2 separate regions of the Homo sapiens genome follow, and region 1 is linked to region 2. The links come from fine-mapping of genetic effects on gene expression. A gene starts in region 2. The other region holds a variant in brackets. All regions are shown on one strand. Distances are between the middles of the regions. Region 1 overlaps SEPTIN4 (septin 4). Region 2 holds the start of SEPTIN4 (septin 4).

Evidence for each region. PIP is the estimated chance that this variant, and not a neighbour inherited with it, causes the effect. A credible set is the group of variants that fine-mapping cannot tell apart.
Region 1: its variant is the best candidate, but not a certain one, in a credible set for the expression of SEPTIN4 in whole blood (TOPMed, PIP 0.50).

Annotation. Positions count from the first base shown.
Region 1 is chr17:58,520,986-58,525,373 of GRCh38, forward strand. It overlaps SEPTIN4 (septin 4), which reads right to left. Exons shown (of 14, transcript NM_001368771.2): 7 at 4,093-4,216; 8 at 982-1,116; 9 at 751-868; 10 at 560-661; 11 at 269-365; 12 at 13-175. The region is part of intron 1 of SEPTIN4-AS1 (SEPTIN4 antisense RNA 1); the gene reads left to right. Among named protein-coding and RNA genes, the nearest start is that of SEPTIN4-AS1, 3.3 kb to the left of the region's middle. The variant T/C (reference allele first, on the strand shown) is at 2,144.
Region 2 is chr17:58,541,764-58,546,151 of GRCh38, forward strand. It overlaps SEPTIN4 (septin 4), which reads right to left and starts at 2,565. Exons shown (of 14, transcript NM_001368771.2): 1 at 863-2,565; 2 at 159-203. The coding sequence starts at 2,423. It overlaps SEPTIN4-AS1 (SEPTIN4 antisense RNA 1), which reads left to right. Exons shown (of 5, transcript NR_110810.1): 3 at 1,694-1,835; 4 at 2,773-2,908.

The DNA.
Region 1 (4,388 bases), 21 kb before region 2:
TTCTGGTCATACTTGCGATTCCGTTCCTTCACCACCAGGCGGGTCATGCTCTGGATGCACTGTGCCCGGTAGTTCTCATAATGTGTCTCCCGTGTCACATCCTTCAGGTCCTGCATGTGGGTACGTACCAGCATTGTCCTCAGCTTCACAAAGTCGCAGTGCCCTGGGTTTTCCACTGCATAGCAAGGCTAGGGGTCAGCCAGAGGCATAGGTAGGGGAGAGCCACTGAGGGCAAGGAGATACCCTGGTCACAGGCTCAGTGCTTTACCTTCCACGATGCCCCAGGGGTAGAGTCGACCCCGAACTCGCCGCCCTCTGGCCTCTACTACAGTGTTGCTGCCAATTACTGCAAATGGGATGCTTTCCTGGAAGAGGTTAGGGGTGCCTGTCAGCACCCTCTGTTCTCACCTCTTTCTTTCCACCTGTATCGTCATCTTCTCTGCTTCATTCTAGGAAGCCAGGGTCCTTTCCCACCCTGATAGCCTGAATATAGAATTCTACTCCCTTTTTCTACCCGGAAGAAATAAGATAGGAATGGGATGCCCTAGAGTGGCCCCACCTTTAGGGCTTGGTCCTGCAATTTGAAGTCCTCATCCTCATCAGAGTCACAGTCTGGGAATTGATAGATCTTGATTCCAAAATGCTCAATCTCCTCCCGGATCTGACAAACAGATGAGGGGCCCACAGTTCTGGGGACCACATCCTTTCTAGAAGCCCACCTGATCCCCTCCCACCACCAGCTTCCCTCACTTTGCGTTTCTTGTGGTCCACTTCGGGAGGTGTCAGTGTGTCTGCCTTAGCCAGGATAGGCACGATGTTGACCCGCTGATGCAGGGCCTTCATGAATTCAACATCCAATGGCCGGAGCCTGGGGAACAGGAACCTGTGACCACCTGCTAGTGGCAGCCCTGCCCCTGGTGCTCTTGGCCTGTTCCCTTGACAGCACCCGGTGGTGCCAGGAGCCTCAGGCTTGGACCATACCCATGGCCGAAGGGTGAGATGAAGTACAGGCAGCAGTGCACCCTGTTGTCTTGGATGTTCTTTCGGTTCAGGCCACTCTCGTCTCGGAAATACTGCTCAAACTGCTGATCAATGTATTCTGCCACAGGCTTCCAGCTGGGGCAGGGACAGACAAGCAGAGAAACTGTGAGAGTGGGAGCCACCTAGTGAGCTCTGGGACTACAGAGAAGTAGCCCACTCCCTGAGCAGTGTTTTTAAGACACTGTTATTCCCTGGCTTGCTTTACTAAATCTTTAGAGAAATTCCTGAATGGGGTGGGGTGTATCTCACATGTCCTGATACAAAATTAGACTGAGTACTCAGGCAAGTTTAATAAATACTAGCTTGATGAGAGGGAAAGGGCCCAGGTGATCAAACAAAGCAGTAAGAATAGGCTGGGCACGGTGGCTTACCCCTGTAATCCCAACACTTTGGGAGGCCGAGGCGGGTGGATCACTTAAGGTCAGGAGTTTGAGACCACCCTGACCAACATGGTGAAACCCTGTCTCCACTAAAAATACAAAAATTAGCTGGGCGTGGTGGTGTGCACCTGAGTAGTCCCAGCTACTCAGGAGTCCGAGGCAGGAGAATCACTTGAACCCAGGAGGCAGAGGTTGCAGTGAGCCAAGATCATACCACTCCAGCCTGGGTGATGGAGCCAGACTGTCACAAAAAAAAAAAAAAAAAGAAGAAGAAGAAGAAAAAAAGAATAGCAAGGTGGCTGCAGGCAAATACCAACTGGAAGCCAGGGAAACCCTAAGTCAGGTTTCCAGTGTAACCTCAGAGCCTCTTTGCTCATGTGTTTCTACCCTTTCCTCTACCTCTCCAAACCCACTCCATCCTTCAAGGCCCTAAGAACCATCTCTTCCACGAAGTCTCCTTTGACTATACCAATACACACTGCTCTCCCCTTCTCTTCACTACAAAGCAAAACAAATAAATAAATAAATTTCCCCAAGAACCTCAATTTTCATATCCTTTGCTCTTCTATTATCTTGTTTAATCCTCACTGCCCTGACAGGTGGACATTATGCATTATGATCATCATCACTCTCATTTCATACATGAAGAAACTAAATCCAGAGCAGCTAACAGATTTGCTCCAGGCCAGGTGTGGTAGTTCACGCCTGTAATCCTAGCACTT[T/C]AGGAGGCCAAGGTAGGCTGATCACTTGAGCCCAGGAGTTCAAGACCAGACTGGGCAACATAGCGAGACCCCCATCTCTACAAAAAATACAAAAAAGTTAGCTTGGTGTGGTGGCATACACCTGTAGTACCAGCTACTTGGGAGGTTGAGGTGGGAAGATAACCTGAGCCCGGGGAGCCCCGGGAGGTGGTTGATCAGGCCACTGCACTCTAGCCTGGGCAACAGAGTGAGAACCAGTCTCAAAAAAAAAAAAAAAAGAAAGGAGGAAGGAGAGGGAAAGGAAAAGGACTTTCTGTAGGTCATTTAGCTAGTAAATTCTCTACCCACCTGAACCCCTACAGCTCAGTGCACTTGCCACTACACATTGCCTGACCCATTTACTAATTTAAGTTGCTATCTGATTGAAACATGTTAGAGAACTGCCCCCACCTCCCCTGCTTCCCTGTTGCCACTTGACTATAAGCCTCTCAGGGATAGGAATCATTCATGCTTGTTCTGAATCCCTTAAAATGTCCACCACAGGCTGGACATCTAGTATGTGCTCACATTCTAGCTGATTTGATGCTCTGCCGTTGCCATGTTGAAATTCTTAAAAATTTTGAACACGGGGCCCTACATTTTCATTTGCACTGGGCCCAACAAATTATGTTGCTGGTCCTGCAATTACCATTGTTAAAATTCCTGAGTATGCTGTAAATAGCCCTTTACACTTTTCAGTGCGCATGCATCATGTTGGGTGATGTTCAAATCAATTGGAGAGGTGGTAAGGGCTGGTATATTTTAATTAAATAAGTGTCTGACAAAATGAATATATATGGAGGTACACTTTAAACTGTGAGGTGCCTGGCAAATGAAATTATTAGTATTATGGAAGGTAAGAGACAGTAGGTAAATTGATTGAAGGAGATCATTTGCTCAAGATCATGAAGTTACTAAATGCCAATCAAGATTTGAACTCTCTGTCTAGGGCTCTTAGCACTGCCTGCCTAACTTCTTCATCAAAGCTACCACCTTTTCTCCTGTCAATCTCATCCATTTCCCTCTTCATCTACTCACTTAGGTCTGACCATTACCTAAGCTGGAGGTAACGGTCAGACCTACTGACCATTAGCTGGAGGGGGGTCCCTCCAGTGCCTGAAAAATAAAAAAGCCCGAATGATAGGGGGTTGTGGTAAATCCAGCTTTTCTTTCGGCAGGTAGCCTAGAGGGTGCCTGGAGTTTAAACAAAGTTCCACCATTTTTCCCTTTTGCCTATTCTTCCTCACCTTTACCCTCCCTCCATACATGCCCAGCCCTTCAACAAGATTGTGTGCGGCACCTAAAATGTTGCTAGTGAAAGGAAAAAGGGTGACAGTTTATTCGGCATCTACTATGTAATCAACTCTGTGCTACATGTTTTCACACTTCACATGTGTTTGTTTTTAAGGCTCTTCTTTCTTATCTTTTTTTTTTTTTTTTTGGAAGGTTTCGCTTTGTCTTCTAGGCTATAGTGCAGTAGTGCAATCATGGCTCACTGCAGCCTCAACCTCCTGAGCTCAAGTGATTCTCCTGCCTCACCCTCCCCAGTAGCTGAGACTACAGGCCTATGCCACCATGCCCAGCTAATTTTTAAAACTTTTTGTAGAGATGGGATCTTACTATGTTGCCCAGGCTGGCCTTGAACTCCTGGCCTCAAGTGATACTTCCGCCTCAGCCTCTTCTTTCTTATGTCCCTACCCCATTATAGAATCATAGGGCAGAATTGGAAGGAACATTAAAAATCATCTATTCCAATCCTTTCCCTCTTACTTTATAAAGGAGGAGATGGCTGTCCAGTAAGGGAAGTCACATGCTCAAGGTCATAGACCGCTTCCTCCTGATAAGTATGGATATATCTGGGCCTACGTGTGTACCTGTGTATGGAGAAGGGTGGCTCAGGGGCAGCTGGGATTGTGCTTACTCAGACATACCACTCTGTGTTGTTGACTGCATCCCCAAAACCTGGTGTGTCCACAATGGTGAGCCGCAGCCTCACACCCTTCTCTTCTATGTCCACTGCATGCTTAGTGATCTCCACAGTTTGCATGATCCTCTCTGGAGAAAGGGGAAACTGAGGCCAGGGCAAGGGCAGGGACCTGCCCAGTCAGGATGAACCGCCCACCCCAACCAGCCTTGTTGCTCAGACTGCCTAATCCACACTGCCCCCTTCTCCACTCCCAAGCTGTCTGGGGGACTGTTCTCTGGGAACCAGCAAGGAGTACATTTC
Region 2 (4,388 bases):
TTTCAGCAAGATGAGAAGTTCCTCTGCTTCTTCAGGTCAAAATCCCAGCATTTATCTCCTAAACGACCCAGCTCTGTAGATACATAGATGCCACTCCTCACCTGTCCTCCCATCCCCCAAGCTCCCACAGTGGGCCCATAGGAGGGAAAAGCACAGACCTTTTAGCCACCAGATGACACGATTGTACATTTCCTCAGAGACATCTGAAAGTAACAGAGAGATGGTTGCTTTTCTTCTCTCTGTGGGATGCACATCCCACTCTCCACTACTTGCAGCTCCCTTTCTAGCTCCACATTTCTCCACTCAAAGGTGCCCTCAGCCCTTGGTCCTCTCCAAGAAGCTCCTCCAGCCTAGGACTATATATCGTATTCCCACTCTCCCTTTCTCTTTTTTACACCCTCTCTCTGTGCCACTGTGAATGCCTTTCCCCTCCTGGAATCCCAGCTCATCTGCATCCCACCCTCTCCACTTTGTAGCCAGAGTATTTACCTGAGGCCCTTATTCTATTTAACAGCCCTTGCCAGCCCTCACCCCAGCTCAGTTCTTCATCCCCACTCAGGAAGCAGCTTTCAACCCTGCAAGCCCCTCTCTACTACCTTCAATTAAAAAGGTAAGCAGTGTTGCCTGGAGGAGTCAATGCCTGTCGCCCGGCCCAAGCATCCATCATCAATGTCATTAGCTTGGAGCACAGAGAAGCTGGCAGGGAAGGAATGGAGCAATAGGCTCAAGGATAGGACTAGCTTTGGCACTGGCAGGAGAGCAGCCCTTAGGCCCAGAATGAAGAGGTGGTCTTTCCTGCCCACCCCAACATCCCATCTCACTAAATTGGGGCTGCACCTGGGCAGTCTGCTTCTTCACATACCCAGGAAGAAAGCAGTAAACCTTTGAATGGGTTGTTTGCAGGTGTGCTTGGGGGTCTGTGGCACTTCACTCAGTGGTGCCCAACTTGGAAACTCCTTTGGTGGTGATGGTGGTGATAGGCTTGCCTTCTCTCTCTGGAACTTCAGATCCTCACAGAAAGGGCTAGAGTCTATTTTAAAACCGGACAATAAAAGATCTAGGGAAGGAGAGCACTTAGGCTCAAAATCCGGTGTTGTCAGCTGGCTTTGGGGTGTTTCAACTTCAGGATTCAGCAAGGGCCACCATGAGGAGTCAGGTCCGTACCTAGGTAAGGACCGAGGAGGCAAGGGCCTAGGGGTCAGTTCCAGTTCTGCATGGATGGAGGGCTTTTGCGAGAGTTCTGGATACCTGGGTGTAGGTCCTTGGGACATGTAAGTAATTTCTGGGGGTTTTTGGGTTTGCTGTTTATAGATGGGCTCTGGAGTAACAAACATGGATGACTTGTGGGAGCCCTCAGACACTGATGGAACTGTCACATGGTGAGTTGGCTCTACTGACTGTACCCCTGGGGAGATGGTGACCCTGCGGCCAACCTCGCTGTTTCCTCGGATTGGGGTCCTCACGTTGGACTCCACCTGTGATGATACTAAGACCTTTGCGGAGGGCTTGGTTTCAGGATAGGCAGAATACTTATGAAGAGACTCAGGGTCTACCCGTGCAGAAACTCGGTGTACACCATCAGAATCTTTAAGGACAGAGAGTTTGAGCAATGAGTCCAAGTTCATATTCCTATACAAGGCCTTGGGTTTTGAAGGAATTGGACCGTAAGGACCTGTTTCTGATTCTTCTACAGGGACCCTTCTCTGGGCTGTCTGATAGTCTGCAGAGACACAGCTGCTTCCGTGCTCTAGGAGAGAGGGACTCCTTGGAGATCTGATCTCACTAGTAGTCGTAATTCTTTGGATGGGCTCAGTTTGTACTGCTTCATCCTTTGGGTAAGACAAAATCCTACGGGGAACTCTGACTCCTTGGGGGTTCTGGACCTTGGATGGTGGGTCATCTTCTAAGATTTGTGATTGTAAGTTATTCTTCTGGTCTTGAAAACTCAACTGATGAGTAGATTTGGCATCTGGGATTGATGAAGCATGATGGCCGACCTCGCGCCCTGACTTGCTCTCACTGCCTCTTCGTGCTGCTTCCTCTCTGGGTGGACTAACTTTCCATTGTCTGCTTGAAGCATGGGAAGCCAGTGTCTGAGTCTTCTGGCTCTTTAGATGGGGAGAGGAATGGCGGGATGATTCTGTTCTTGGTCCAGTCTCGGGTCCCCGAGGAGTGGGTACTGCATAGTGTCCAGGTCCTGACTGGAGGGAGACAGATCGAGGGTAGTCTGATGCTGAATGGGGAGTGGTGGGATGTGCAGCTTCTGATCTTCGGTGGGAAGGGTTCAGGGAGACTGCAGCACTTCGATGGCTTGAGGCAAGAACGTACCCATGTCCCTGCTGAGGGGATGTGTTAGTAGTAACCTCAGACCCTCTCTGTGCTGAAACCGCTACCTTGGCCCCAGGTTTATTTGTCTTGACCATCTGATAGATTGTGCCCTTCTGAGTAGATCCCGTATTTTACTGGCTGGCTTGTATTCAGGATCCTAATGATGCCTGAATATTTACCCTGTTTTAAAGCTGCTGTTTCTTGGGCTCCCACAAAAGTGGCTGTTGTTCTAAGAGTGTCTCAAATAATCCCCTTAGCTACCTCTCTGTCTGGTGATGTCATAAAGGAAGGAGCTTCCTTCCTATTAAACATCCTAGTGTACAGCCACAATTCTTCACAGAATCCCAAAGAAGTACCTGAAAGGAATCTGTGGATTTGTCTTTGGAGTTATATCACCAAGCCTTTGGCAAGTTTTTAACAAAACTGGGATTTCCTTGTACATAGAGAAGGCTCCAGACCCTCCTTTACTCTCCCGAGATTCTAGAAATTCTCAGGACTCATCCAGAGAAGGAATCAGCCAGAAGATCCTATGAAGACAAGATCAAACCAAACACGCTGTGTTCGCCCCAGTTTTAATAAGGTACGAAGTACAAAGTTGCCCCAATTTTGTTTGAAACTGTACTGTATACAAGTTAAAAAAAAAAAAAAAAAGAGAGCTTCAGCTTTTTCCAGGTCTCATGGATTGTTTCATTGCTCCTGGGGTAAAAATCCAGGTTGCTCAAATAATAAAATTCTCACATTCTTGCTCCAGGAGAGTTTAGTGTTTTATTAATAAAAGGGATTTGCCATGTGCGGTGGCTCACGCCTGTAATCCCAGCACTTTGGGAGACCGAGGCGGGTGGATTGCCTGAGGTCAGGAGTTTGAGGCCAGCATGGCCAGCATGATAAAACCCCGTCTTTACTAAAAATACAAAAAAATTAGCCAGGCATAGTGGCAGGCACCTATAATCCCAGCTACTCAGGAGGCTGAGGCAGGAGAATCGCTTGAACCCGGGAGTTGGAGGTTGCAGTGAGCTGAGATTGTGCCACTTTACTCCAGCCTGGGTGACAAGAGCAAAACTCCATCTCAAAAAATATATATAAATAAAAACAAAATAAAAGGGATTTGGGCTGGGTGCAGTGGCTCACACCTGTAATCCCAGCACTTTGGGAGGCTGAGGCGGGTGGATCACCTGAGGTCAGGAGTTTGAGACCAGCCTGGCCAACATGGTGAAACCCCATCTCTACTAAAAATACAAATATTAGCCAGGCGTGGTGGTGCGTGCCTGTAATCCCAGCTACCCGTGAGGCTGAGGCACGAGAATCGCTGGAACCTGGGAGGCGGAGGCTGCAGTGAGCTGAGATCGTGCCACTGCACTCCAGGCTGGGTGACAGAGCAAGACTCCATCTCAAAAAAAAAAAAAAAAAAGAAAGAAAGAAAGAAAGAAGGAATTTGGAGTTAATCATTGGTTTCCATCATAAATGACTACAGGTGTACCTAGGAGAAATTACCTGCCTTCCCTGGGACTTGGTTTCTTCACCTGGAAACCACTGCCTGGTACATGGGTGTCACACAACAAATGTTAATGTCCTTTCTCATGATCCTGTCAGCTATCCAATCAGCCGGACTCCGGTTCTCTCTTGAAAAGTGACTTTCCAATTTGGATGACCATTTTGGAGGAGACTCTGTCACCTTTCTCTCCCTTTCACATGCTCTTTCTCTCATTCTCTCTTTTAGACATAGACTCTACCATATCCAAAATTCTATTATGAACTCTGAAGGGTCATTGAGATTATAGGATGGTCAGCTTCATTTTTCTTTTTTTTTTTTTATTTGAGATGGAGTTTCAAATAAACTGTGCCCAGGCTGTTGCCCAGGCTGCAGTGCAGTGGCGTGATCTTGGCTCACTGCAACCTCTGCCTCCCGGGTTCAAGTGATTCTCCTGCCTCAGCCTCCCGAGTAGCTGGGATTACAGGCGCATACCACCATGCCTAGCTGATTTTCTTTTTTTTAGTAGAGATGGGGTTTCACCATGTTAGTTAGGCTCGTGTCAAACTCCTGACCTCAGATAATCTACCCA